Regions from separate parts of the Homo sapiens genome. Here region 2 is linked to region 1. Evidence: fine-mapped expression QTL. Tissue or cell type: blood mononuclear cells. Region 1 holds a variant in brackets; the other region holds the start of a gene. All regions are shown on one strand. Distances are between the middles of the regions.

What was found.
Region 2: it holds the start of TRIQK, and the variant in region 1 is fine-mapped to the expression of TRIQK in blood mononuclear cells (TOPMed, PIP 0.98). The same link has a PIP of 0.9 or more in whole blood.

The regions. Positions count from the first base shown.
Region 1 is chr8:92,985,498-93,001,665 of GRCh38, reverse strand. It overlaps a transcript of TRIQK not described here. Among named protein-coding and RNA genes, the nearest start is that of TRIQK, 27 kb to the right of the region's middle. The variant A/G (reference allele first, on the strand shown) is at 8,573.
Region 2 is chr8:92,958,717-92,974,884 of GRCh38, reverse strand. TRIQK (triple QxxK/R motif containing) reads left to right here and starts at 8,741. Exons shown (of 5, transcript NM_001171797.2): 1 at 8,741-8,878. It also overlaps the pseudogene IRF5P1. RefSeq lists silencers at 518-786, 8,645-8,754 and an enhancer at 9,425-9,534.

The DNA.
Region 1 (16,168 bases):
ATCTCCCTTTAGATATAATAATATTTGCTTTATATATTCAGGAGCTCTGATGTTGGGTTCATATACATTTATAACTGTTATATGATTTTGCTGAATTAATCCCTTTATCATTATATAGTGACCTTCATTGTCTTCTTTTTACAGTTTTTGACTTAAAGTCTATTTTATCTGGTATAAATTTAGCTACTTTTGTTCACTTTTGGTTTCTATTTGCATCGAATATCTTTTTCAACAGCTTCATTTTCAGTCTATGTGTGTCCTTACGGATGAAGTGAGTCTTTTGTAGGCGGTATATACTTGAGTATTGTTTTGGTTTTGCCCATTTAGTAGCCTCTCTATATCATTTTTTTTTTTTTTTTTGAGATGGAGTCTGACTGTGTTGCCAGGCTGGGGTGCAGTGGTGCAATCTCAGCTCACTGCAAGCTCTACCTCCTGGGTTCACACCATTCTCCTGCCTCAGCCTCCCCAGTAGCTGGGACTACAGCTACCCGCCACCATGCCCCGCTAATTTTTTGTATTTTTAGTAGAGACGGGGTTTCACCGTGTTAGCCAGGATGGTCTTGATCTCCTGACCTCATGCTCTGCCCATCTCAGCCTCCCAAAGTGCTGGGATTACAGGCATGAGCCACTGCACCCAGCCTCTATACCTTTTAATTGAAGAATTTAATTCATTTACATTCAAGTTTATTATTGATAGGTAAAGACTTACTTTTGCCATTGTGTTAATTGTTTCTGATTGTTTTGTAGCTCTTTTGTTCCTTTCTGCCTCTTTTTTTTTTTTTTAATCCTTTGTGGTTTGGTGGTTTTCTGTAGTGCTATGTTTTGAATTAATTCTCTTTACCATTTGTGTATGTGCTGTAATTTTTTTTGTGGTTACCACGAGGCAAACATGAAGAATCTTGTAGCTATCACATACTATATTAAGCTGATAACAACTTAAATTTGGTTGCATATAAATACTCTAGACTTTTACCCTTTTCCCACAATTTATATTATGGTTGCCTTAATTTATATCTTTTTATATTGTGTGTTCCTTAACAACTTATTTGAGATATTGATATGATTTGGTTGTGTCCCCAACCCCCACCCAAATCTCTTCTTGAATTGTAGCTCCCATAATCCCCACATGTCATGGGAGGGAAATGGTGGGAGGTGACTGAATCATTGGAACAGGCTTTTCCCAGGCTGTTCTCATGATAGTGATTCAGTCTCACAAGAACTGATGGTTTTATAAAGGGCAGTTCCCCTCCACATGCTCTCTTGTTGGCCACCATGTAAGATGTGCCTTTGATCTTTCTTCACCTTCTGCCATGATTGTGAAGCCTCCCGGGCCATGTAGAACTGTGAGTCCATTAAAGCTCTTTTTCTTTGTAAATTACCCAGTCTCAGGTACTTCTTCACAGCAGTATAAAAATGGACTAATACAGATATAGTTATTTGTGACCATTTTGGCTTTTAACTTTCATACTAGAAAGTTGAAAGTTATCCTTTGAAAATATGTTTGAATATATGTTAAGCTAATTTTATGCTTTAACTACCTGTTTCATATTTTGATGCAAATTTTGATACTTTGAATACAAATATATTTTTAAAAATTGTTTAATAGTGTTTAGATCACGGAGAATGAGTAAATATAGAGACCATGATGGAAGTTGAAAGTATATGTAGAGCTCAGAAAAAATAAAATAAGATAAAGAAAATCTTCAATGAGGGTATTTGAGTAAGTTTTTAACAACTGAAATAATGAAAGTAAGCAGGTTTTTTGTCAAGTATAACTCACTTCAAATTTACATATGTAGAATAATACATTTTTAATTTAATGGAGACTTAGTTACTGTTCAAACCAATGGAAAAGGAGAAAAAATTACTCTCATCAAATACAATTTGATCAAACAAAGTCTCTGAAAAACCATTAGTCTTTATCAAAAGAACAACAAAATGCTGGTCAACAATGAAAATAATAAATTATTTATATTACTTTAACACTCAGAGGCAACAATTCCATTTCTGGCCTGTGCATCAGAAGATGAAGAAAGTTAAATTAACGAAGTCCACAAATTGGGTCAGGAAAATGATTTTTTTGGAGATTCACTGTTTCTTGGTTGATGACACTGGAACATGGCCATTAAGACCTTCTGAATTCATACACCATTTCTAACAAAATGTGATCTGGTTTAAACGAGTAGTCAGAATATTCCATTTGATAATTACCAAATTTCTGTAAAATGGATTAAAAACTTAGAGTAATTAGTATATATGTTCAGAGACTACGTGTTTTTTAACTTTGCCATAAATTTCAAATTCAACAGCCAAGTCTGTCCTTAGCTAATAGATTGAAACAGTTGGGTTTTCAATAAAAATATTAAAAACAAAAGAATTCAAAAACCAATATGTCATTTGCACAGAAAAACACAAGCCACTACTGGAACTGTAACATAGGTTTAATAAACAGCAATAGCTAGTATTCAACAAGGGCAAGTAAACACTTTATTAAATGTTACCAAAATCTTTGTAAATATTAGCCTGGAACAACCTGAAGTTGGAGATAATGTCTGGTTTGTTCTTCACTGTATATTCTACACCTCAGATATCTGGAACATAGTAGACACTAAGTAAATATTCAATTGTGTTTGGACAAACCATGCTCTTTCATGACCCTACAACTTAGAATCTGATAGTCCTACAAGTCCATCTCCCTCTACCAGAGAAATATTTCCTTTCCTACCTGAGAGATTTTCTAATGGTCTTCAAAGACATTTTTGTAAATCATTCCCTAACCTCTGAAGTGTTCTTTCTTTGTTGCTCCCAGAGTCCCCTGGTCTTTACATATTAAAAATATTAGGCTGTCCTGGAAATGTTGTCTTATTTGTCTGACTTCACCACTAAAGTATGAGTCCCTTAAGGTTGTCATTTCATTTTTGTAGTCCTTATGCCTAAAATAGCAACAAGAGTAGCCCCTTTATTTTTTCAAATGAATAAAAACTAATGAAATTAACATTTTATTTGAGATATTAATAAAATTCATTTTCTAAAATGCTACTGTAATTACATACTTACCTACAACTCATCTAATGTTATACATTAAATACTTGTCCTTTTCACCAAATGGGGGAGTTTTGTTTCTATACAGTCTTTGATGAGATATAAAATGCATACATTTGAAACTATTGACTTAATTTAATTTTCTGCCTTTGTACTGTGCTAACACTAATCTCTTAAGAAATTTTCCAATTTCTTTCAGTAAACTGTTCTATTATCAAACAATCTTCTCTGCCAAATTGTCTTTCTTAAACGAAATATAAATCCCTCACACTAAAGCTTAAACCCATTTCCATTTCTCTCTTTTTTATTATAACTGAAAATTAATGGAAAGAATTAAAATGAATACAAAAGAGAGTTAAAATATATCAACATTAAGCTAAATATTTAATATTTGATTATATAATGTAACCATTAATTATTCATTCATTTATCCTACAAACATTTACTAAGAGTTCACTAAAGGTCAAGTACTGTGTTGGGTCTTTAAAGTCTTAGCAGAAAAAAGTTTAGCCTTGAGGCTGACTGAGCATTTATACTGTTTTCATTTGTATTAATTGCTCTTGTTTCTCATACTAATCATATACATACAGAAATATATTATTTCTGTAAATATTAGGAAAATCAATAATGTAATTAATAAATTTAGTTTAATGAGTACCATAACACTTCTAAATTTCACTTTGTTTGATTTTTGTAAGTGTTGTCTTACAGTTTGAAATCTTATAATAATAAACTTTCTATTATTAGAACTTGAAAGGTGCTTAAAATTAAAATTCAAATTCTTTACATTTATGGATTTTAAAAAAGCCCAAAGGTGTTAAGTCAGAACTAAATCCAGTTCCCCTGGCTCATTCATTTGTTCCTTTTCATTAATTCATTCATTCACTCAATTATTCATGCACTGATTAATTCATTGATTGATTCATGCAACAAATATATATCAAAGTGCACTATGTGCAGGTGCTAGTGCCTTTTTCAGTGTCCTCAAATTTGCTCACTAGAGCTTACAACATCAAGAAAATATTCTTCAATGTTTCAAAATCTACGAGTAAATCACAAATGTCAGTTCTCACTATTGCTGACTATGTAAGGACAGAAATTGAGTTGCATTTAAAATGACGTAGTGCAGTTCACTTTAACAACCCCACCCCTGACACAGACACACATAAATTTGTAACCTAGATATCTCAAAGTACTTTGTAACCTAACGTCCTAAATCCTTTAGCCTTCTGAGGTTGATAGGGTTTCGGTTGCCCTTTCTTTTAATATGCAAATAATATCTCACATGTACTGTAAAAAGTCCAACAAGATCCATAATATTTTTGAAAATTTCCTAAAGTACTTATTTCCTTGTTCCTATGCACAGTCTGAATTCCTAGTGCCAGTATGTTTATTGTGCCTGGTGCCCACCACTGTCTCACTTTCTGTGGACCTCCTCTCTCAGTTCCTCTCTACCCAATCATTAATTCCTTAGAACATCACTAGCAAAAGGCTTTTATTTGTAACATATTCTACTGAAAGCTTGCAGGAAGTGAAAAGAATTACTACCCTAGTACTAACAGAGAAACAATGTATGATTGAGTATTGGTCATCATAAATTTTCTAGTCACCTTCAACACAGGAATTTCTCAGTGGACACGAATGTCCATGGGTCTCACTCTGCCTGTATATTGATTACTCCCCACTTCACTGAGGTGATTCTCCCATTCTTTACTTCCTCCACCAACACTTTTTTCTGCTTGCTAAGATTTCTGTAATTTATTTTGAAGAGTAAACTATTTTTCAATATCTGCGATAGTCTTAACCATGGTACTATCTATACACACTTACAAAGACTCCTTATTAAACTTCCCAAAAGAAGAGCAGTCTACCCAAGCTCTAATCCTTTAGTAATAATAAAACAGTAGAAGCTCCCTAGAATTTAGAAAGGGTTAGGATCACTTATTTCACTATGTAATATGTTAACATAACCATTCAATATTAATAGATAACCAGTATTGAGATATTCAAAGAAGAATTAATTATAGTTTATAATATCAAGGTGATTACAGTCTCTGAGTTCATGTCACTTCCTTTATTAGCCATTTTCTTAACAACTATTCAATTCACATACATATAGCCACTTGCTCCTTAATGCTCAACACTATTCCTCACATATGCCTATTATAGAATCTATGAGATATTACACACAATTTTGCTTACATGTCTTGATTTATGGTTCAATGCAGTAGGCTGAACAATTGAATTTAACTTTTTGAACTTATTGAAATAACTAAAAATACATAAAATTAAAATGCCATGAGAACATTGGAAAATAAAAGTACAATTGAGAGACCAGAGAATTTAAACTATTTTGAAAGAATAGAAAACAGAATGGAAGACTTACACCAAGTGTAGTGCTGGAGATGTAGCACAAAAATTATGCAAATCTTGCAGACCACAAAAAAGAGTTTAGATTTAATTCCAAGTACAATCAAAAGTCATTGAAATATTTTAATTAAGAAAGTAAAAATCATTTTATTTACATTGATAAAATCTCACTCAGGGAGGTTCTAAAAACAAATGGCATTCTAAACTGGTGAGAATGAAGATCAGAGTGGCCTCCGTCTAGTGCCTCAACAGAGATCTGACAGTTGGTAGTTACATATCACTTTCTCACAAGAAGCCAATTATATCTATTCTATTATTCTTAGAATTCCCGTCACATGACTATCCCGGGAAACCTGACATAGCTACTAAAGTTGAATAAAAATCATGAGTAGATGAATGAAAACATTGATAATGCTAAAGGAATGAAGCAGAACCCTTAGAACAGATGGCCCCTGTGAACTAGAGCTGTAAGATGTGACACATAACCGTGTTCATCAACTTCAACAAACAAAATACTAAGTCCCTTTAAGTAGAGTCAATTATAACATATGTTTGACTTTCTGGAAGAAACATAGATAATTTTTGAATTAAAAAATTATTAGTAGCTGACTTGAGGGAAGATGATCACTGTTGTGAACCAAATCAGTGAATGGAAAAGAAGGGTAAAACTACTTCAAACACAGAGTGAAAATAAAATGTGAAAAAAAATAAGATAAATGATAAAAATCTCATAGGATAGACCCAGAAGACCTAGCATAAGTTAAAAGAAAAAAATGGAAAAATACCTTGATTTTAATAACAAAGACCCTAAAGATTGAAAAGGCTCACTGAATACCAGGCAGGGTAGATGGGGAATAAAAACACACATATTCTGACAAGATTCCTGAAATCTAACAATAAAGAGAAAAATGCAGAAGCTCATAATCAGAAAGAATAAGTTAAAAACTAAAGGATAAAGAATCAGAGTGGCATTGAACTACTTATTCATAGCACTGGTAACAAGGGAATAGCGGGATAACAGGCATTAAGATAATAAGAGAGTAATCAGAAAATTCTATACCTAGCAAAGACATAATTCTCAGATCAAGACATAAAAAATGACATTATGGATATGCAAGGACCTAGAAAATATAGGTGATCTATGTGAGAAAAACTCTCCCCTAACAAATAAGGAATGAATTATAAACCAGATCCCTCCATAAAAGTAGAATAGCAAGGAAAAATACAATGAGCAATAAATCTTTCAGTAGAAATAGTTTAGTGAATATATTTAATAATATTGTGACTGTGAATTAGTAACATAACTGATAAATACAGTTTTTTTTTAAGAGAAGGAACATATTGTAATGGAAAATCAACAGTACTCTAGAATAAAAGTTCTAAACTCTGTTTAGAAGTTTGTAGGGGGAAACAAGGAGTTTGTAGGGAGAAACAACAAAAATCAAAAGTGTTCTAAGGGATTTATTTTGACAGGAATTGGAGCAATAAGGCAGTGGATAAATAGAGTAGTATAAGGTCAGAGGTGGTATCTGGTTTGATGTAATATTATAAAAATATATATTGGATTGAGTGTCAAGAATTGGAAGAAAGAGAAGGACCAGGACTTGTAGATTAACAAAGTTAAAACTGGAATAAGTAACCTAGTAAAAAATTAGAAAAAGGAAAAAGAAGAAACAATAAAATAAATTAAGTGGTAAGCATACATAAAAATGAAAATAATAAACAATTATTTAAATTGTTCCTCTAAATATGAATGGACTGGATTTTTTCTATTAGTGCAGCAGTTGTCAGCCTTGGAGGAAAAAAAATTATGTGATTTTTAAAAAATAAAACACATTTGAAACAAATAAATTTTTTAAAATGTTGAAAAAAAGGAGTAAGCAGATAGACACTAGGGATATATAGATAAGCAGATAGACACTAGGGATATATAAATAAAAGAAGAGCAGTCAGGGAAGTATAAATATAGAAGGTGGAATTTAAAGTTAAGCTCAGTAAGACAGAACAGAGAGAAATACTATGTGATAGTAAAAGGCATAATTTATGAAAACTTTAAACCTGTATACACGATACAATATTAACTAAAACTATTAAAAAGAAGATAGTGCACTAAATTTTCATGGAGATTTTAATATACCTCTTTCAAAATTGCACAGAGTTAGTGTACAAAAATAACTAAGGGCTCTTTAGTCAGTTCTGTGCCATCCACACAAGGAGAAACAGGAATAGTCTTTGTGGTTCCTTTCTGGTTCTTTCTGCCCTTGTTCCAACTGCCCGAGGAAGTGTACCATCAAGAGGAGTAGGTGGAAACCTTTGCCTCCCAGGAAGTTTGCCTAGTCTTTTATCATCAATATCTCTTACTCGAATAAGGAAAATAACAAACCTCTATTGTTTCTGATACCCTGGACAAGATTTGCCATTAAAGCCTAATAGACAGTTCCAAGTTAGATGGCTAGTCATAAAGAACTAAAGGTAGACATCATTCTCGATCTCCCAGACTGATCCTAACTCTTGCAGACACGGGAATTGGCATGATCAAGGCTAATACCATCATAATAGTTTATCAACTATTGCCAAGGTTTTAGGGAAGCTTTGCCCACCGGTGCAGATATCTCCATGATTGGATGGGTTGGTGTTGGCTTTTATTCTGCCTACCTGATGGCAGAAAGTTGTGCTCACTAAGCACTGAAAATGAGCAGCGTATCTGGGTGTTTTCTGCTGGGGACTCCTTCACAGTCTGTTCTGACTACAATGAACTTATTAGCCTGTGTATCAAAGTGATCTTTATCTTCAAGAAAATTAGACTGAATACCTAGAAGGAGGCTTGTCAGGAAGCAGTGAAGATGCACCCTTGTTTCACTGACCATCTCATTGCTTTTTCTTTGGAGAAGAAATGAAAGAGGAAAGCCAGAGATGAGGAGACAGATGAGAAGAATAAGAAAAAGGTGAGCTAGGAAAGAATGATGGGGATAAGTCTGAGATTCAGATAGGGAAGATAACAGTGACAAGCACAAGGGAAAGAAAACAAAGTAGATTAAAAAGAAAAATGTTGATTGGGGAAAGCTGAATAAAACTCACTTCATTTGCACCAGAAACCTGGATGACATGATCCTGGAGCCTTACCAATGATGTAACAGCCTTACCAATGACTGAAAAGACC[A/G]GTAGAAAATCAAATAGGTCTCTTAGAAGATCCTAGAATTCAGGATATTGATGGCTTCTCTTCATAGGTTCCTTTTGACCTCTTTGATTGGAGTGTATGAAAGAAGAGTGGAAATTGAAAGAAATAAATCTCAATTCTTCTCCTGACTGGTTGTTAATATGAGTAAATGAATCAGTCTCTTCATAAGTTGAGCTAGTTTGGAATTTTGTCATTGGTGTCACCATTTCAGTGCACTAGGACTTCAAATTCTTCCAACAATGGGGTGCTCTTCTTTGGCTTAATGAGGGTTCTGGGGTGCCGGAGGTTTTACTCAGTCTTCTGTTTCATTCTCAGCTTTCAGCAGACCCCACTCAACTGCCCCACAGAGGAGTCTGTCTTCATGGTCTCGCAATAAATAGCAAGCTCTTGGAGTTCTCAGTTCTCTTGATCCTGCCTCAGCCTCAGGCTGGCCCTGTGCTTCTTGGCCTCAGAGGTGCGGCTTTAACAGCATTCCTACACCTCTCCTTGTGGCAGCCAAACTGTGTCATCTCTATGTGAAGTCTTGGGCCTGAGACAGTATCCTGGCTTTCTCTCAGACCCCTACTTGAATCAGTGCAGGAGTTTGGCTCCTCTCCTCTCCCATGAGCAGATGACCTTTGTCTCTCACCCCTACTGGTGCTATTGCACCTTTGCCTGGCACTGTCCAGTGGTAGACTGATATTGTTTGTTACTAGTACAAGGCTCCCGGTAGAGGCAGGAAGATCTTCCTCCCCTGTCCTCAGAGGCAGAGGGTTTTGCTTCTACCTCTCCCTCAGGAGCAGTCCATCTTTGCTCTTCCTCCTCCTTCAGAGGCAACTTCCATTTCTCCTCCACTCCCCCAGGAACATTGCCTGGGTCCTGGGGGCAGGAGTTTCCTGTTTCTCTCCCAGCAGTGGATTGCTTTTGCTTTGTGTAAGTCAGAGAAGGGTACAAGCAGAGTTTCATGCCTCTGTGCCACTGAAAGGACTCCCTAGAGTCTTTTGCAATGCTCCCAATTATTATCATTATTTTGAGACAGTGTCTTGCTCAGTCACCCAGGCTGGAGTGCAGTTCTTCCATTTGTTTGTGTCCTCTTTTATTTCGTTGAGCAGTGGTTTGTAGTTCTCTTTGAAGGGGTCCTTCCCATCCCTTGTAAGTTGCATTCCTAGGTATTTTATTCTCTTTGTAGCAATTGTGAATGGGAGTTCACTCATGGTTTGGCTCTCTGTTTGTCTATCGTTAGTGTATAGGAATGTGTGTGATTTTTGCACACTGATTTTGTATCCTGAGACTTTGCTAAAGTTGCTTATCAGCTTAAGGAGAATGTGGGCTGAGACGATGGGATTTTCTAAATATACAATCATGTCATCTGCAAACAGAGACAATTTGACTTCCTCTCTTCCCATTTGAATACGCTTTATTTCTTTCTTTTGCCTGATTGCCCGGGCCGGAACTTCCAATACTATGTTGAATAGGAGTGGTGAGAGAGGGCATACTTGTCTTGTGTGTTTTCAAGGGGAATGCTGTCAGCTTTTGGCCATTCAGTATGATATTGGCTGTGGGTTTGTCATTAATAGCTCTTATTATTTTGAGATACATTCCATTAATACCTAGTCGACCCCTGCTGGAAGGTGTCTCCCAGTCAGGAGGCATGGGGGTCAGGGACCCACTTGAAGAGGCAGTCTGTCCCTTAGCAGAGCTCAAGCACTGTACTGGGAGATCCACTGCTCTCTTCAGAGCTGGCAGGCAGGAACGTTTAAGTTTGCTGAAGTTGCTCTCACAGCCACCCCCTCTCCCAGGTGCTCTGTCCCAGGGAGATGGGAGTTATATCTAAAAGCCCCTGACTGGGGCTGCTGCCCTTTATTCAGAGGTGCCCTGCCTGGAGAGGAGGAATCTAGAGTGGCAGTCGGGCTACAGTGGCTTTGTGGAGCTGCGGTGGGCTCCGCCCAGTTTGAACTTCCCAGTGGCTTTGTTTACACTGGGAGGGGAAAACTGCCTACTCAAGCCTTAGTAATAGTGGACCTCCCTCCCCCCACCAAGCCAGAGTGTTCCTCGTCAACTTCAGACTGCTGTGCTGGAAGTGAGAATTTCAAGCCAGTGGATTTTAGCTTGCTGGGCTCCATGAGGGTGGGATCTGCTGAGCTAGACCACTTGGCTCCCTGGCTTCAGCCCCCTTTTCAGGGCAGTGAATGGTTCTGTCTCGCTGTCATTCCAGGTGCCACTGGGGTATGAAAAAAAAACTCCTGCAGCTAGCTTGGTGTCTGCCCAAATGACCGCCCAGTTTTGTGCTTGAAATCCAGGGCCCTGGCCTAGGCACCCAAGGGAATCTCTTGGTCTGCGGGTTGCAATGACCATGGGAAAAGCATACTACCTGGGGCCGGAGTGCACCATCCTTCATGGCACAGTCCCTCAAGGCTTTCCTTGGCTAGGGGAGGGAGTTCCCTGACCCTTTGCACTTCCCAGGTGAAGCGACTTCCCACGCTGCTTCAGCTTGCCCTCTGTGGGCTGCACCCACTGTCTAACCAGTTCCAATGAGATGAGCCGGGTACCTCAGTTGGAAATGCAGAAATCACCTGCCTTCTGTGTTGATCTTGCTGGGAGCTGCAGACCGGAGCTCTTCCTATTGGGCCATCTTGCCAGCGACAACTACGTGATCTTCTTTAATTTAAAAACCAGTAATATAGACAGGTTTGGCAAGTGTAACCAAAAAAATACAAAGAAAGCACAAAAATAAAACACAGGAAATGAAAAAGGAGCATCACAGCAAAAATAGCATCCACATTAGTATCATAATTGACTGGAATTCTTAGAAAAGCAGATGTTCTGGTTAATTTAATTTTCTTATTAACTGACAAAAAGAAGCTCCCGATTCTTGAGAAAATCTTTATGACAAGCATTTCTTCTTGTGTTGTTTTAATAACCAATGTGAAGAGCATAATATACTGTTTCTTTGGTGATTCCAGCTTTATAGTTCCATCTTACCTCATTCTGACCATTACGGAATGTTGTTATAACAATACTTTATTTTTAATCTATGTTTTTATAAATTGCTTTTTTATGATCTTTGTTATGAAGTTTTAGTATTTTTTTAAATCACTTATTAGTAACTCTTTATTAAAGTCATTAATCTCTGTGGCAATCTTCTACTACTTGTTATGTGCCTTTTAATTCTCTGATTTTTTTTTAAACAAATGAGGTTTCTGTAAAAAAATCTTTTACGTAGTCAAATGTGTCAATACATTCTTTCATGATGTCTTCACCTACTTTTATGCTTAAATGCAGTGGTCCCAATCTTTTTGGCACCAGGGACCAGCTTTGTGGAAGATAATTTTTCCATGGACCAGGCTGAGGGATGGTTTCAGGATGATTCAAACGCATTACATTTATTGTATACTTTATTTCTATTATTATTACACTGTAATATATAATGAAATAATTATGTTACTCACCATAATGTAGAATCAGTGGGAGCCCTGAGCTTGTTTTCCTGCAACTAGTTGGTCCCATCTGGGGGTGATGGGAGACAGTGACGGATCATCAGGTATTAGATTCTCATAAGGAGTGTGCAACCTATATCCTTCACATGGGGGGTTTCCAACAGGTTCGAGCTCCTATGAAAATCTAATGCTGCAACTGATCTGACAGGAGGCAGAGCTCAGGCAGTAATGCAAATGATAGGGAACAGCTGTAAATAGAGATGAAGCTTCACTCACTTGCACATTGCTCACCTCCTGCTGTGCAGCCTGGTTCCTAAAAGATCACGGACTGGTACTAGTCCATGGCCTGAGGGATGAGAACCCCTGCTTAAATGGTTTTGATTATTCAGGTATTCTGACATATTTTATTCTAGCCCTAATTTCTTCTATGGTTTAGTGTTAACGTTTGATACACCTAAAATTTACTTTGATTTTGGGAATGAGCTGTGGTTCTAAGTTGACTATTTTAAAATAAAACATATTTATAGATTAACCCCTCCATTCCTGATATGCAGTATTATCTTTATCACATATTAAATTCTCATGTCTACAGGGTTTGTCAATGGCTATCTGATTTATCCATGTATTCTTGCATCTGTAACCCACTAATTTTCTTATCTTTTCTTGTTATTTTTCTGAATAAAATTTAGAATAGTTTTTGCATACCTGCTGTCAAAAATAAATAAAACACTGCCATGTTTTAGTTGGAATGAAGCTAAAACAACAAAAAGGAAGGAAGGGGTGAACATTTTTATGATATGCAGTTCAATATATATTTATTATATAATATTTCAAGGTCTGAGAAGTTAAATAAGATATAATCCCTGATGTCGAGAAACTTATGTTCAACAAAATTTGCTAATTGTTAAGAGAGATAAGTATCCTTTGATGTAATGAGATAACAAAACTGATATGCGGGCCAAACAAAGGATCTTGGAAATCTGCAATCTTCTGAGTTGACCAATTTTTTAAGTAAAAATGTTATGCAAGTACATGTTGAGGGTTAAGTAGAGCAGAGATAATTTCATATCAAATAATTTAGGAGATGAGTGGAATCACTGATCAAATTGTAACACTTGAAAATGAAATCGAGTTTATGATTTCTAGCACGAGAGTAGAAAATAAATTTAGCAAACCAATATAGTACCCTACCACATTTAAATGTCAGAAAAAGTGGCATAAAATGTAAACACACACATACATACACAAACATACATACTTTTCTTTTCATTTAATTTATCCATCCTTTTTCGACAATAAATATTATGAGTTCACCTTTTGGGTATAATAATTTAAGAAAGTATAGGCTGGGTGCAGTGGCTCACGCCTGTAATCCCAGCACTTTGGGAGGCCGAGGCGGGTGGATCACGAGATCAGGAGATTGAGACCATCCTGGCTAACACGGTGAAACCACGTCTCTACTAAAAATACAAAAAAAAAAATTTAGCCGGGCGTGGTGGTGGGCGCCTGTAGTCCCAGCTACTCAGGAGGCTGAGGCAGGAGAATGGTGTGAACCCGGGAGGCGGAGCTTGCTTGCAGTGAGCCGAGATCGCGCCACTGCACTCCAGCCTGGGCGACAGAGCAAGACTCCGTCTCAAAAAAAAAAAAAAAAAAAAAAAAGAAAGTATAAAGTATGAACTAAAACTAAAAACGACGATTATGTCATCTAAAGATGATACAACCATGTACCCTATCTGCATCTGTATCTGTGTCTTTTGTATCTATATGCGTATTTCTATCTCTTCATCAATATCATTATTGAGATCTTAGTAAATATTCTGTTTATTAGCTTGAATTTTTACTTGAGAAACTATCCCCATGTTTTTAAATATTCTTCAAAAACAAGATTTTAATACGTGCATAGTATCCTAGAATATGAATGTATCGTGAAGGTCTTTGCATTAAAATTAGTATAAATAATTTTTCTAATAATCATTTTGAGAAAATTATAATTTTCTTTATTTTGATGAATCATATATTCACCCACTACAATTTTGATTATTATTTACTATGCTAAGCAATTACTTCTGGTAATAGCTCACCAATAAACTAAGCTGCTTCTTAAGACTGCTAGTATTCAAAGACAATAATAGTACCCATTCATTCTATGTTTGTGCTAATTATGTAGGAGAAACCCAAATGCTTATCATGTAAAACCAAATGACATACACACATATAAGCCTATACATTAAATAACTCTCTGTAGAGTTCCCATTCTCTGGAGGAAAACTAATTCTCCTTTTAGTTGGTTTTTAAGAAACTGATGAATACATTCTTTGGAGAATCTAGAAAGCTTCTGACATCTGCTCATAATTTTAGATTTACAGAGCCATCTCTTGAAAGCATCAGTCACTGTACTACAAGGTAGAGGCAGAAGTGGACTTTCTGATAGAATGTCACTTAAGTAAGTCAGTGGCTGATGCTTCAATGGCCTATGTGATGGCATTATTTTCTTAAAAAAGAAAACACTTTAATTAGTATTCCAGACTTGATTAGATTCAGGGATGGTGACCATAGTATGTTAAATTATAAGAAATGAAAAATTCTGAAAGACAATTTACATTTCAAATTAAAATGAGAAATAAAACTTTATAGCTGACCATTTCATTTATTCCTATTAGGAAAACATCTGGGGAAACAGGTCTGTTACTTGGGTAGCTTGTCATGTGTCATGTCCTGATTTATAATACTTTCAAGATATGATTTCATTTCTTTTATTTCTAGATTATTAGAGGACAACCATCTTAACTATCATCCTTAGATGGCACCCAATTATTTCCCTTTACAGATGTGTACGTCTCTGCACATTCACCCTCAGCCTCCAATCTCTGTATTTGGGAATGAATCATTGCAGAACATCGATTTTGCCTTCTTTAGCATGACTACAATGAAACAAATTTTATCCCTACTCTTTTATTCTGCATGTATAAAATAAGAAAGTAGAACTAAATGGGAGATTTGGCCCCGAGAAAGTATTTCACTAAAAGTAACTGAAAAGACTTCTAGTCTTCACATGTTCTGTATTACAGAATTATCTAGAAAGTTGTGTGACTCACAGAACATGAGTTATAAAGGTGTATTGTCATTAAATCAGTGTAAAATTCTCATGGTAAATTAAGTTGTGATTATTAGTAGCTAAAGATTTGATGAAAAAGATATTCTTGTTTATTCCTATAAATACATTTGCTAATTGTACTAATTTCTGGGTTCAAATATTTTCCCCAAATGGTTGCATTTTGTCTGTAGAAGAAAAATCTTTGAAGTTAAAGGCTTTTATGTGAATTTCAGATGAAGCATGTGTCTATTTGTTAGTCACAAAACAATATGAAACAAGATAATATTGCATTGATGCTTGGCAAAATAATGTGGTGCCTTTCAAGAACTTGCAAAAAAAAAAGTTTTCTTTATAGGTTATCCTATGTAATACATGTTAGTATACATGAAGTTATACTCGATTCTGGCAGAGATATGTAAAATCATCTTAATAGATCCAAAATAATCACAGCCAAATTCTGCTATACATTCAAATCACTCAACTGGTGCCTCCCTGTGATTGAAGGCCACAAACACCTTTCTGGTAATTGACATTGCATGTAATTAATATATAGGGAAAAATGTGCTAGTCAAATAGAGGAAAGTATCTGGTACCCTTAACAACTTTAATTAGTCGTTGTAAATTATTAAGTTCATGCTTTGGCTTTATACATCAGTGTTTATGAACTCTGGCAGTGTGTGACAATATTGGATTCTTACTAATTTTGGTAAACTGAAAAGTCAAGCTTCCTGGCCTGTAAATATGAAAGGATAGGATCCATCTATCATATCTGATCTTATTGACAAGAGCCTGGGCACAAAATGTGTAATACAGTTTTTTAACAACAATTACATCGGCAACAAAAACTCATTTTACAAACATTTTATTACTAAAAAGCATGCTTCAGTCAAGTTTACCAGAGGTTTTATGACAACCTGGCCTGGTGAAACCTTGAAGGATTTAAGACATGTCAGCTATGTACAAACAATAAGTATATGGGATTGTTTGACTTTGGCTTCCAATAGCAGATGGCAACTGAAAATACAGTGAAGCTAAATCTCCTCTGATGTCTCTACACTAAGCTATCCC
Region 2 (16,168 bases), 27 kb after region 1:
GTCCCAGGCAAGGCCCTGCAGAAGACATAAGGCTAAAACTGGTAAGGTGCCCATGGGTTCCATGGAACCTCCACATCCATTTACAAAGCCCTCTAGGAAGACTGGGCTAGTTGCTTTCTTCAGCTTCAGTATTATGGGTCAAGTGGGTGAATGAGTCAGGGCCACTGGCCAGCATCAAGGTTGGGCTCAGGAAAGCCTGGATTACAGTCTGCAATTGATGAGATTGCTGGATGTGATGGAGCTCCTTCAACTTTTCTACCTTATGGTTCAGTCTTTGAGATGTATGTCTAGATACTATCAGTCAATTAAGAACCCCTCCTGAGAAGAACTTCAGCAACAACCAAGCTTCAGTCTCCATACACCATCTATAGAATAATGAATTTCTTGTTTCAGGACTTATAGTCAAGATACCCTTCCCTAAAAAAGGAGGTCACAAATCGTGGTTGTGTGTTGGTTTGGCCCTTTTGGAATGAGATGAGCTCATTGAAAAAGATTCAGACTGAAGAGCTTGGACTTCATTTTCTGTTGGATTGGTTTGAGGTGGGAGCTGTTGGATAAGGTACAAGGCTCACTCCGGAAGACTTTGTGCTGTCGTAGTTGGATGATATACAAGTTCTGGCCCTGCAGCTGGAAGCTGAGCCCATAGTCCAGGATGTCCAGCAGCTAGTAGATGTAGAAGTGCTGTTTGTTACTGGGTATGTCCTTGCTGTCAGGGAAGTGCACCTGTTTCAGGCTTTCCTGGCCAAAGAGCTCCACTTCTCTGATGTGGCCTCCAGCTAACTGTTGACAAGGTGACAACCATGTAGGTTGCTGCTGTTGATGGCACAGGGATACCAGCCTGAAATGTAACTTGACCTTCAAGCACTTGATGTGGAGCTATTGAGCAGATCAGGCAGAAGAAATGGGTTGTCTGCACAGGGCAGGTTTGCAGCCAGCAGCAGGATATGGAGGAAGCAGTTACCCAAAGCTAGTGATTTCACAACGTAAATATACCAAAGTGGTGCAGTTTCAGATAAGGGGTCCCAGACTCACATACAGTGGTGATCATTTAAACTCCTCCTTCTGTAAAGAACAGAGTACTATAGGGGACGAGAATGTACTAGACCGGAATGTACTGTGCGGCTCAAATTTGGTAGCATCCTCCCGAGCTATTCCTTCTCCTTCTCCCACTTTGCACCAAAAATGTTATCCTTACTAATGTTTTCCTTACTCCCACTTTGCACCAAAAATTTTATCCTTACTAATCTTGACTCTGCAGAAGCTGGATCACCAAAGTCAACCTTTGTATATCTTTTAATAGTGAAATGATATCAGTGCAAGCTAAATAATTTGTTTAGCCCAGGACAAAATGAAAGTGTGTGGCCCGTTGTTTAAAAAAATTTAAAAAAAAGTAAAATGTGCCATCAAAGGCATAAGACAGAAAACGTTTTATTGCTTTCTTCCAAAGTCTCTCTGAAGTTATCGTGGTGTTTTATACTTGCTATTTAACGCTGCTCTAAGTAGAGAAATTAAAATTTTTCATCATAAGTGTGATTGCTACTGTTCACCTTCATTTTGTGCAATTGCAGTTCTAAACAAAAATATAAGAACATTTACTGATATCCAGAATCACTGAAATTACATAGTTCATATTTCATAGCTCATATATGCATATGTATATTGTTGTTACTGAACCAGTAGAAACTGCAAAAAATACCAACTCAAAATTGTTCTTATTTCATTTCTTGATATGCACACATTCTACCAATACTCAATGGAAACAAAACAAATGACTTTGATAACAGGCTTACCTCACATTTGCTTTGAGTCTCGCCGAACTCTCACCTATGATGGGTCCATCAGAATTCTGTGCTCACGAGGCACCATGAACTCTATGTGCAAGTGAGATCACAAGAAATAGTAGAGAACTTACTGTGAATATCTCTTCTGCTCATGCACACGCTTCATTATCCCATTAGACTGAACTTACAAAAAATAAGTTCAAAGATAAAATTATTAAAAATTTCAGGACAGCAATAGTAGATCATTAAACAAACAGGGGAACCTTCTGACCATGGGTGTTGTGGGCCTGTACAGTTCTCATACCGTGAAGCTGGCCCTGAGTGACAGGTCTTGAAACACAGTAAAGATCAGCTGGAAGTTGTGGCTTTTGTTAAGGGCTCAGCACTGCTTAGCCTTCTACTTAGTGGGATTGGCCTTATCCACTCTTCTACTTCACTTTCCTGTGTTCTTGGCCCGGGTGTGAAAGATAGTGTTGTTACCCTCCTGGATGGGGACATGCCAAATGGCATAATGCCAAAGCAAGTAGAAAGTTGGAGCTAGGCAGAAAACTGGGGGGTGGTGTGAAGGAGGAGCACAGGGCACTACTCTTAGAACATAATATTAAATGAATGCAACATTGATGATTCTCAGCATAACAATATAGATTGTTACCTCTAGAATAACCACAAATAAAATAACAAAAAGAATATAGCTAAAGAACCATTAGAAGCACAAACTGGAAGTCTAAACATTTTTGACTAAAGCAAATAAAAAAAGGAAAGTATAAATGGAGGAGAAAGGTAAAAATGAAAAATAAAAAATACAAAGAAAAATGATAGACTTATACCCTTCATATTAATAACTATGTTACATGGAAATTGAATAAATATTTTTATAACAAATCAAAGATTGTCAGACTGGAAAAAATGCAAATTCAACAATATATTGTATACAAGAGATAGAGCTATAAAGGCATAGATAGCTTAAATGTAAAGGCAAGGAAATGGATCTAGTAGAAACAACAGGCATAATACATCTAATCTAAGATTATTAATATCAGGCAAATATTCTTCACCACCAAGTATAACCAGAGATAAAAAGGTCAACATTGCATAATGATAAAAGTGTTGATTCATCAGGAAATCATAATAATTCTAGATGTGTATGAGCCTAGTAACAGACCTTCAAAATATATAATGAAAGAATTAACACAACTAAAGAAAATATAGTTTGAAGTTGGATACCGTGATGCCTCTAGCTCTGTTCTTTTTATTTAGGATTGTCTTGGCTATATGAGCTCTTTTTTGGTTCCATATAAACTTTACAGTAGTTTTCTCTAATTCTGTGAAGACTGTCGATGGTAGTTTAATAGGAATAGCATTGAGTTTGTAAATTACTTTGGGCAATATGGCCATTTTCAGGATATTGATATTTCCTATTCATGAGCATGGAGAATGTTTTTCCATTTGTTTGTGTCCTCTCTGATTTCCTTGAGCAGTGGTTTGTAGTTCTCCTTGAAGAGGTCCTTCACATCCCTTGTTAGCTGTATATCTAGGTATTTTATTCTCTTCGTAGCAATTGTGAATGGAAGTTCATTCATGATTTAGCTTTCTGCTTGTCTATTGTTGGTGTATAAAATTGCTTGTGATTTTTGCACATTGATGTTGTATCCTGAGACTTTTCTGATGTTGTTTAGCAGCTTAAGAAGCTTTTGGGCTGAGACAATGGGGTTTTCTAGCTACAGGATCATGTCATCTGCAAACAGAGACAGTTTGACTTCTCTCTTCCTATTTGAATACCCTTTATTTTTTTCTTTTGCCTGATTGCCCAGGCCATATCTTCCAATACCATGCTGAACAGGAGTGGTGAGAGAGGGCATCCTTGTCTTGTTCCCTTGTGTGTGTAACTTTAAACTATACTACAAGGCTACAGTAACCAAAGAAGCACGGTGTTGGTACAAAAACAGACACATAGACCAATGGAACAGATAGAGAACTCAGAAATAAGACCACACATCTACAACCATCTGATTTTTGACAAACAGGAAAAAAACAAGCAATGGGGAAAGGATTCCCTATTTAATAAACAGCGCTGGAAAAACTGACTAGCCATATGTAGAAAACTGAAACTAGACCCCGACCTTATACCTTATACAAAAAATAATTCAAGATGCATTAAAGACTTAAATGTAAAACCCAAAACTATAAAAACCCTAGAAGAAAATCTAGGCAGTACCATTCAGGACATAGACATGGGCAAAGATTTCATGACAAAAGATCAAAAGCAATTGCAACAAAAGCAAAAATTGAAAAATGAGACCTAATTAAACTAAAGAGCTTCTGCATAGCAAAAGAAACTATCATGAGTGAAAAGATAACCTACAGAATGGGAGACAATTTTTGCAGTCTATCCATCTGACAAAGGTCTAATATCTACAATCTACAGGGAACTTAAACAGATTTACAAGAGAAAAACAACCCCATTAAAAAGTGGGCAAAAGACACGAACAGGGACATCTCAAAAGAAGACATCTATGTGGCCAAGAAACATATGAAAAAAAGTTCAACATCACTGATCATTAGAGAAATGCAAACAAAACCTATAATGAGATACCATTTCACACCAGTCAGAATGGCAATTATTAAAAAGTCAAGAAACAACAGATGCTGGTGAGACTGTGGAGAAATAGGAACACTTTTACACTGTTGGTGGAAATGTAAATTAGTTCAACCATTGTGGAAGACAGTGTGGCAATTCCTTAAAGACCTAGAAGCAGAACTGCAGAACCACCATTCCACTCAGCAATCCCATTGCTTGGTATATACCCAAAGGAATACAAATCATTCTATTATAAAGATACATGCATGCGCATGTTCATTGCAGCACTATGCACCATAGCAAAGACATAGAATCAACCCAAATGCCCATCAATGATAGACTGGATAAAGAAAATGTGGTACATATACACCATGGAATACTATGCAGCCATAAAAAGGAATGAGATCATGTCCTTTGCAGGAACGTGAATGGAGCCAGAAGCCATTACCCTCGGCAAACTAATGTAAGAACAGAAAACCAAACACTGAATATTCTCACTTATAAGTGGGAGCTGAACAATGAGAACACATGGACACAGGGAGGGGAACAACATACACAGGGACCTGCTAGGGGAGGATTTGGAGAGGGAGAGCATCAGGATAAATAACTAATGCATGCTGGGCTTAATATCTAAGGGATGGGTTGATAGGTGCAGCAAACCAGCATGGCACAAGTTTACCTGTGTAACAAACCCACATATTCTGCAAATGTATCCTGGAACCTAAAATTTAAAAAAAATTAATTTTTTTTAAAAAAAGAAAATATAAACAAATGCACAAGCATAGTTGGAGATTTAACACCTTTCTTTCAATAAGTGATAGAATATGCTTAAAAATGTTGGTAAGGATCACTATGGCATATGTATACCTAAGTAACAAATCTGCACATTCTGCACATGTATCCTAGAACTTAAAGTAAAATGAAAAAATAAAATAAATAAATAAAATGTTTTTAAAAGCAAAAAAAAAAAACTGTCATAAGATATAGACTATAATCAACATTTAGAGCATACTGCATTCCATAATTTCAGAATACACATTTTTTTTCCAAATACACTGAGAACAGTCATAAAGATAAACCATATGTTGGGTTATAATATATGTGTCAATAATTTTCAATAAAATTTGAAATATTACAATATATATTTTCTAACTACAATGGAATTAAAAGTCAATAACTGTAAGATATTAGACAACTCTCAAATACTTGGAAACACAGAAACATAATTCTAAATATGTAACCAAAAAAGAGCCCATATAGCCAAGAAAATCCTAAGCAAAAAGAACAAAGAGGGGCATCATGTTACCTGACTTCAATCTATACTACAGTAACCAAAACAGCATGGTACTGGTACCAAAACAGATATATAGACCAGTGGAACAGAACTGAGGCCTCACAAATAACACCACACACCTACAACCATCTGATCTTTGACAAACCTGACAAAAACAAGCAATGGGGAAAGGATTCCCTATTTAATAAATGGTGTTGGGAAAACTGGCTAGCTATATGCAGGAAACTGAAACTGGACCCCTTCCTTATACCTTATATAAATATTAACTCAAGATGAATGAAAGACTTAAACGTAAGACCTAAAACCATAAAATCCCTAGAAGAAAACCTAGGCAATATCATTCGGGACATAAGCATGGGCAGAGACTTATAACTAAAATTCCAAAAGCAGTTGCAACAAAAGCCAAAATTGACAAATGGGATCTAATTAAACTGAAGAGCTTCTGTATAGCTGAAGAAATTATCATTAGAGTAAACAGGCAACCTACAGAATGGGAGAAACCTTTTGCAATCTATCCATCTGACAAAGGGCTAATATCCAGAATCTACAAGGAACTTAAACAAATTTACAAGAAAAAAACAAACAACCGCATCAAAAAGTGGGTGAAGGATATGAACAGACACTTTTCAAAAGAATACATTTATGCGTCCAATAAGCATATAAAAAAAGCTCATTATCACTGGTCATTACAGAAATGCAAATCAAAACCACAATGAGATACCATCTCATGCTAGTTAGAATGGTGATCATTAAAAAGGCAGGAAACAACAGATGCTGGAGAGGATGTGGAGAAATAGGAATGCTTTTACACTGTTGGTGGGAGTGTCAATTAGTTCAACCATTGTAGAAGACAGTGTGGTGATTCCTCAAGGATCTAGAACCAGAAACGCCATTTGACCCAGGAATTCCATTACTGGGTATATGCCCAAAGGATTATAAATCATGCTACTATAAAGACACATGCCAACGTATGTTTATTGCAGCACTATTCACAATAGCAAAGACTTGGAACCAACCCAAATGCCCATCAATAATAGACTGGATAAAGAAAATGTGGCACATATACACCATAGAATACTATGCAGCCAATTATATTTCAATTTGCTAGAAATGTAAGTCAATAATATATGTCTTTATATGGTAAAGAAATAAGCATATAACATACATCTGGAAGTTTTAATTTTACATTAAGCTATTTACTTCTTGTTGTATAATATCTTACATATGTGAGAATATTCAATGCATTTGCTGTACAAATGCATTGCTGTACATCTTTATGTAATGAAAATGGACTCAAGTACATTCACCACTTTTATTTAAATCTTACAGCATTTATTTATATATTTATTAATATATAATCATAACTCTTTCTTTTTAGTCTAAAACTAATTTTTTTTTTTTTTTTTTTTTGAGATGGAGTCCCACTCAGTTGCCCAGGCTGGAGTGCAATGATGCAATCTCGGCTCACTGCAACCTCTGCCTCCCGGGCTCAAGCAATTCTCCTGCCTCAGGCTCCTGAGTAGCTGGGATTACAGGTGCCTGCCACCATGCCTGCCTAATTTTTGTATTTTTAGTAGAGACGGGGTTTCACCATGTTGGCCAGGCTGGTCTGGAACTCCTGACCTCAGGCAATCCGTCCACCTCAGCTTCCCAAAGTGCTGGGATTACAGGCATGAACCACCACACCTGGCCAAACCAAATATTTTTAAAAGATTAAAGAAAATGGGGACTCTGAGTCATACAAATCAAGAAAGTTTTATAGAGAGTTATTCACATTTAGCAAGCTTTCAGAAGAATTTGGATATTCAGCAGGTCAAGAGTGTAAAATTATTTGTAATTGGAATGGGTTTCTTTTATTCCAACAATTGCATCACAGTACGATGAACATTTTAATTGAATCTCAAGGCACTTGTCCAGAGGTACTCTTTTTTTTTTTCTTTTTTCTTACTACAACCGTATCTATCAGACAAGATAAACCCTTCTGGGTTTTGGTTTAATATGGAAGGAAAAAGAGTTTCACTATTTTAAAGCCACACACATAAGTAATCTGGTTAAGTGTATTAATATAATCTCATTTAACTCTACCTTTATTTCTGGGAGAGGAACTGGAGACCAGAAAATGATTTAGGAGGACGGAAAATAAAATTACATTTTGGATTCAATTCCTGGCCATAATATTCTGTGAGATTTCAGAAAGCCTTCTGGTTAGTCTATTTATACTTGTCTCAGTTTTTTTTTTTTTTTTTTTTTTGTATGCTACTTTCTTTCTCAAGGGCTTTTGGAAAAAGATATGATGGGGCTGGCCTAGAGGAAGGTGACTTTTATGTGAGCAAGAGAAAAATTAAATTGGAGGTTGCATAATTTTTTGAAGGAATTTTAGATTTAGTTCACCACAATATTAAAAAATGATGGCTGCAGGCACTTAGATTTGTTGAATGGTTGAATAAATCTAGCCTTTCCTAGCCTGTGTTTCATTGTCCATAGGCTGTGGATAATACTCTTAGTGGGTTTTGTAAGGATTACATGAGTATAATTTATAAAGCATTTAATATTTGAATACTTTTCCAATAAGTAACATCTTAATATTTCATTCCCATTTTGTAGATGTGAAAATTGAGTACCCGAACATAGGCTCCTAAATCCTAATTGTCAGTCACGTTTTTGCAATCTTTCCTAAATTTATTAATCTCTGGTTAATGTTAATATAAAACGATTTTTTTTTCTTTTTTGCTGTTTGAATGGGCAATTAATTGATTGTTTACACAGACAGTGCGCCCTTCCACTTAGGGACGCTCCTTAGGGATGATCCTGTGAATTGGGGAGTGTGTGTGTGTGAGATGGGAGGGTTCAATAATCAAAATAACATATTTTTCCGTTTTATATTAACTAAACAAGTCACAGTCTTTATTTTTAATTTCTACAGTCACCTCGTGAGACAGGTATTAGAACTCCGGAGTGGCATCAAAATGAGGGAAAGGCCTCAGGGCCAGCGCCTTTGCGTCCTGGACCGGCGTACAGACGGGAGAAAGGCCGACCAATCCGAGAGCAGGCTGAGGCCTGGTCCCGCCCCTGGGGGCAGAGCCTCGCCTCTTTTCCGCCTCACCCTTTGGGAGTAGGGGTGTGCGGCTGGCTTGTCCCGCCCCTGCCCCTGAGTGACAGAACCGTGGACAGCAACATTTCCCACAGGACACGAAGTTTGTCGGCCCTTGCCTTGGCAGAGCTGAGGTGTGTGTCCGGCGAGTGCGAGGGGATTGGGGAGACCCTGCCCGGGAAGCTCGGGGTCCGGGAATGAAAGCGGGCGCACCTCTTTAGCGAGCCCTAAAGCGTTTGGGAGACGATCGTTCCGTCCCTGGGAGCGGCACTTGGTGGGGCTGGGCGGAGGGAGGCTCTGCAAGAGAAACCCGGAGTCCGGGAAACCCAGTAGGTACGGTGATCACTGAAGGACCCGTTCCCGTTGAGTAGGGCGCTGGCTGCGGGATGGGGGATGGAGGGTGCTGGGTTCGGTGGGCGTGGCCATTGCGGTTGCTAAGGAACGCGCGGTTCCCGCCCTGCCAGCGTGTCTGGCGCCAGCCGCTGGGCCCTGGACACGTTAGTCCCGCCCACCTCCCAAGGTCTTCCACGCGGCTCGGGATTGGCTCCTTTGTGCTGACCGATTACTCGCGGTCGCTTACTTGTCAGTGCAGCTCTCTGGGTTCTGCCGTTCCCTTTTGGGGCCCCCTTTCCCATGGTACTCCTCTTCACTCTTTTTCCTGCTTCCTCTTATTAATGAACGAGTATTTGCATACCAAAACATTTGCAGAGAAGAGATTCAGACAGGATTAGGTGGCTTTATCGGTGGTGGTGAGGTTGTGGGGCGGGGGTATTTTTCTTGGAGCTTGGTGTATTCCTGAATCCATCAGATGTTGGTGTCCGCGTGGATGACTAGGAAAAGGGGATTGGAGATTAGGTTTCTTCTACTTGGAGTTCTCTGCTGCTTGTTTGAGCTTAATAAGCCTCCTGAAGAAGTTGAAGCAATTTATTGCTAGAGGAGCCCCAATGTATAATCTCCCTTTCATTCTCTACTGTGGAGAGGTGTGCTAAACCTGTAGAGCTGTTTTTGCTTCACTCGGCTCATACTTAATGATCAACAAGTATGGTGTGAGATGGTAACCTCAGATAACCATTTTAAATCTGCCTTTGTTTGCTCATATACTCTGTCTCCTAATGATTCAGCACAACAAACATTCCAGAGAGAAAAAACAAAAGAGGTAAAAATCTTTTATTTTCCTCTGGCAGGTTTACAGTGCAAACCCCCAGGAAGGAAGCTTGTGCTGCTTGTTAACATTGGGAGGAGCATTGGCCTACAAGTCAGGAAACTGGCATGGTTAAGAAATGTTTGTCCTTGGGCAATAATTGTTTCGTTATCTGTAAATTGGAGACTCTAGGATATGCCCTTCCTTCCTAAAAAAGGAGGAATAATTGGTTGTGAAAGTATCATTAAAGTAATGATCCACACAAATGTAAAGCATTATTGATTACACTTTTAATCTTTTTGTGTATATGATCCAAATTTATAAACACGTATAAGTATTGCCATTCAGCTTTAAGTATTTTCAAATTTCCCTTGTGATTTTTTTTTTTTTTAATCTTAGGGTTATTTAGAAATGGGGAAGAAATTAACTCATCTATTCATTATTGATTCTGTGTTGGTTCTGGTTAGGTAGAACCTGTAATGTCTTGAATGACACCTTTTCCTCTTTAATATCACTAGATATATATATATATATAGATATATATATATACCTGAAAAGATTGGGAAACATTACCTTTTAATGCGAGGATGACTAACCTTTTTGGTGTCATTTACCACTTTGAGAAACCAAGGAAAGCTATTGACTTGCTCCTCAGAAAAATGCACAATTTTAAGCCTAAATGGACCCTGTTTTTGTTCAACTTCTTTAGGGATAAGGAAATTATTCTCTCCCACTTGCCTCATCCTACAGAGAGACTAAGTAACTTTTACCCAAGGCTACATAGCTGGGAGCAGAGTGGGGCTTTTGCCTTTCTTCCACAGTGCCTCTTACCATAACATACCTTTGTTCAAGGCCTTCAGTCATCTGCAGTTCCCTTTTGGGGCCCCCTTTCCCATTGTACTTTTTTGTTTTTTTGAGCACTAACAAACGGGAACTACTAATGTTCAGTTATTTGTTGCTATCTTACAAAACCATGTAATCTATGTTTTATCCCAAATGCCCTTTGATCATAACCTCTTAAAGCATATTCTGGTATTTAAACAAGTAAAAAGAACATTGTCAAATATTTTGAGAAAAATGTGAAACTGTATTTTTTTTTTTTTTTTGAGACGGAGTTTCACTCTTGTTGCCCAGGCTGGAGTGCAATGGCGCTATCTCAGCTCACCACAACCTCTGCCTTCCTGGTTCAAGCAATTCTCCTGCCTCAGCCTCCCGAGTAGCTGGGATTACAGGAGTGCACCACCACACCTGGCTAATTTTGTATTTTTAGTACAGACGGGGTTTCTTCATGTTGGTCAGGCTGGTCTCGAACTCCCAACCTCAGGTGATCCGCCCGCCTCGGCCTCCCAAAGTGTTGAGATTACAGGGGTGAGCCACCGCGTCTGGCCAAAATTGTACTTTTGAGATGAACATTAAATCCATAAACTTTCTCATCTATCGAGGTCCGTTTTGGACAAAGAAAAGCTGATTATTTTTAGTACATGCCACTGGAATATCATTACTTGATACTTAGAACTGTTTTTTTTTTTTTAAACTTAAGTGAATAATCTTTTATAACATTTTAATTTGTGGCTAAAAAGAATTGTGGTTGTTTTCACTGTGGCTCTTTTCCTGATTTCTATATTCATATAGAAATCTGTAAATAGAGTTCATTATTTTCTTTGGTCTGATTCCCTATCTAGCTTTATCAATAAAAGTGGATATCAGTAGTAGATATAAAAAGTTGTTATTGGATAAGGAAAAACTTGAAGAGGTAAAGAGCTATTGCTTTTGTAAAACGCATAAATGTATATATGCACCTGTTATTTCGTTAGTACTTGTAATTTTATTTGAACTGTTTGGTACTTGACTCTTTCTTTATTCAACTCTGTTCATTTCTGGTAGAGAAACAGGGATAAAGACAAATGGCTTAGAGAGAGCATTACAATGGATTTAGAGATTTTTAGGGGCTCAATAATAGCTCTTTCCTTCCTCTCTTGCGTTTGTAAACAGACATGTGGCGCCTGCCATATCAACTTCAACTTGCAATAACAAGTCGAGTGGGGATAGTGCTTTATGCAAAAATGAGACCAAAAATGAGTACTAGTACTTCCTATCCCCTTTTACTCCTACTCTCTTTCCCAGAACCTAGACTTTAGTTCAGCTGAGAGAAAAATTTCAGATTGCGGAACAGATACGCTTACTTACAATTACTGCTTTTCATGGTGTAGGGCAGAGGTCTAATAAAAGATGGAAAATCTCCAGTGCTTAGTGGTTTATAATGGGTTAGCTCTACCGGTGGAGTAATGTGAACCGGTCAGATACGTCTCTTTTTGGTAAGCTGTGAAGAAGAAGTGGGATCTGAGGCCAGGACTGTTAATCTAGTGCTCTGGTTTTCCATTTCCAGAATGGTTTTCCATTCTGGGTGACACCTCTGGGGTATTTGAAATATGCCAGGGTGTTTTAAAATTATTCTAATTTCTTTAAAGGAAGTACTACTGGCTTTTGGGATCCTGAAGTTCAGAGATGATAAATATTGTGTAATGTAGAGATCTATCAGCTCAATAAAGAATTTCTTTGTCTCACTCCAATGCCAAAGCATCTTTTGAGAGTCCCTGCTCCAGTGGACATTCTTCTATGTAGAAACGCGAAACTCAGCCAGCTTTCTCCTTAATCTTTGTGCATATGTATCTGTGTTTTTGATATCAGTAGATTTGACTCAAAGTGTTAATGTCTTAAACAATATTACTTAGAATTTTGTGGTTTTTTGGTATTCATCCAGAGTGACTAAAATAATACTAATGGAAAATAGTGATACATATTTGATCATATTTGATATTCTCAAATTTCCTATTAAACAGATAAGGATCATGTAGGCCTAGAGCTAATTTTTCATACCATTATATATATTTATACCTTTTTTATATGGTAGAAATGTTCAGCATCTTTGCAACAATAGAGTGAGATAGGTGTATGTTTCCATGAAAAATAAATGATTCCTACTTAATTCGTAATTTTGAAATGTTAAACAATAAAAAGGTAAATACTCCATATTCAGTGGTTTAACAGTTTTTTTGACTCAAAAGGCAAAGACAGTTCCATTAATGAAAGACTCTTGTCAGTCACATGACTTTTAAGCCACTGAAGTGGAGAATGACAACAGCATAAACTAGCTTAGTTCTTCTGTAGTAGTATTATTTAGTGACGTAGTTGCAAAAATAACAGACCAATTGTATTGAACAATTTAAAAGTTTGACAATGACAAAAGAAAGATAGGTTAATCCAAATAACATTTGTTTTACATACTTTGAATGTTAAAATATTCAAATATTGCAGGGTATGGAATAATGAACTATATGGATACCTGTGGCAAAGTCCTAATTGTGGATTATAGTTTATTACCTATAGCAGGTGGAAGGTGCACTGTATTGAAAGTTTTAGACTTAGCTCTGTAGGTAGAAATATCCTTTGTTGGGTATTAATAACTTTCCAGTCAAGTTAATTATCTATGTGGAAAAGGTTGAAGATTTTTCTTTTTTTTGAACAACATGCTTGAGCATTATAATACGTTGCCGTCATTCACAGTGACTCAGTATATAGTACTGAATCTCTCTGGGCAGAGGAGGTATATCAGATTTTTTTTTTCAGGATGGGAAGGTACAGTTTTAAAAAGAACCTCCCAGTTTCCGATTCTGCTTTGTCTGCATTCCTAGGGAGTTCATTTTCTGCCTCCCCTCAACACCGTCCCCTTTATCGATAAATGGAAAACACTGGCTTATGTAGAAATTATCTATACAGTTTTTTCAGTGCTAAAATATTCTGGATAAATTAACATTTGAAAATAAATCAAGTGAAACAAGACATCCTACAAAATCAAGGCAGAGGTTATCAGTAGAAAACTCAGAGGCATACCTATGAATCTCTAAAAATAATTTTAAGCTAAGGAAGGAAGAACATTTCGGGGAGTTATTTGCCGTCCAACACATTCAAGAATACATGGCTTCTATGGATAGGAGAACTTCATGTAAAAATAACAGACAGTGATGAAGTGTCAGAGAGAAGATAGTAAGAGAAAACAAAATGATGAGAAACTGAAAATATGAGAGCCGTATCAGTTTTGTTCCTCTTATAACACATTACCCCACATTTAGTGACTTAAAATAACACAAATTTAGTATCTGACAGTTCTGTGGTTCAGAAGTCTGATATAGGTCACTTTGGGCTGAAATCAAGGTCGGGACAGGGCTGCATTCCTTTCTGGAGGCTCTAGGAGAGATGGTTGGTTTCCTTGTCTTTTGTAGTTTCTGGAGGCTGCTCACATTCCTTGGCTTATGGCCTCCTTCTTCCAACGTCAAAGCCAGCAACATTGCAGCAATCTGACTTATTTTGTTGTCATGTCTCCTGACCACATCTGGAAGGGTTATCTACTTTTGAAGACACATCCAGATAATTCAGGACAATCTGTCCATTTTGAGGTTCTTCATTGAATCATGTCTGCAAAGTCCCTTCTGCAATCTAAGGTAACTTATTTGTAGGTTATGGGAATTAGGACTTGAACATTTTTGGATTGGGGGAACATTATTTTGCCTATCACAAAAGCATTAAAAATCTATATTTGAGGCAGTAACAAATAGAATTGATGTCGTTGTACAAAGTTTAGTCGGTGTAGAGAATAGATTTGAGAGGTTATTTTAGTTAAAAAATTGGAAATCATAAAAAGATGATATATGGAGAATAAAGAATAGAGTCCACTGTGTGGATATTTGGAGTCTCTGAAAAAGAGACAAGAAGATAGATACATAGATAGATAGATAGATAGACAAATAGTTGTTCCTGAAGAAAAGAACAGAGTATTTGAAAGAAAAATAATTTTAAAAATAAATAGGAGAAAAAACTTTCCTGAGCTGAAAAAGACCTATGAAGGAAGAAAGGGCCTTTTTTATGTAAGGCATGACAACTTAAAGAGACACAAAAATCACAAAATTGTCAAATTATGATGATAAAGAAAATAAATGTTTTCCATATCAAGAAAGAAAAGAAAAAAGCATGTTATTAGGCTGGCCTCAGACTTCTTTTCTGTAGTATGAAATGCCAGAAAACAACAGAGCAACATGTTTATAGTTAAAAAAATTCCCAGGCAGTTTGTAATTCTTGTGTGATGGCAACAGAAAACCACTCTTACGTATACAGTCCGTCCCTGATTTACAATGGTTTGACTTATGGTTTTTCAACTTCATGATGGGTTTATCGGTATGTAACCCTATCATAAGTTGAAAAGCATCTGGACTTAAGATGGTTTGATTTACAATATTTCAATTTTACTATGGGTTTATTGGGGTATTAAATGCATTTTCGATTTAAGATATTTTTCACCCACGGTAAGTTGAGGAGCATGTGTATAAAGGAATCTAAACTACTTCGTGTTTCCTTTTGAGGAAAAAGACCCGAAGATACCAGCTTATTATGAGATAATGCAATATCAACACAAAAGCCATTTTGTGTGTGTGTGTGTGTGTGTGTGTGTGTGTGTGTGTGTGTGTATGCATATATATAACTGATGGTATACCCCAGACTTTAAATAGTTTTGTTAAATATAGCTAAAAATTGACTGCTAATATAAAACATTGTTTGCATGAGAAGATAATACTACACAATTAATTCAATAAGAACGACCTAGATTTAAATAAAATTTTGTGAACTTCTGACTCATTTATGCCAGAGAGGAAACCTGATAATCCAAGAGTATGAATAGATTAAAAAATATCCCCAAACCATTGAATAGCAAACTACGACCAGCAAGCCAGATCTGGCTCACCTTGTGTATCCTATGATCCGTGAGCTTGGAATGGTTTGTACATATTTAAACGGTTGAAAAAAATCAAAAGGATAATGTGGACATGGGGAAATTATGTAAAATTCAAATTTAATTGTTTATAAATAAAGTTTTATTAGAAAACAATCACGCTCATTTGTTTATATGTGATGTGGAAATTATGTAAAATTCAAATTTAATTGTTTATAAATAAAGTTTTATTAGAAAACAATCACACTCATTTGTTTACGTATTGTCTATGGCTGCTTTTACAGTACAATACAATACAGCAGAGTTGTGTAATTGCCGCAGAGGTGCACATGAGGCACTTTCATTGCCTTGCTCTGCATCTCAGCACACTAAAATCATAGTCACATTGTTATAATTTGATTTTCCCTCTTGACATCCAAAGCCTATAATATTTGTATCTAGAAAGCAGAAGAAGTTTTCCAACTCCTGACCTGAATTGTAAGACATAGTGTACTTTTCTTT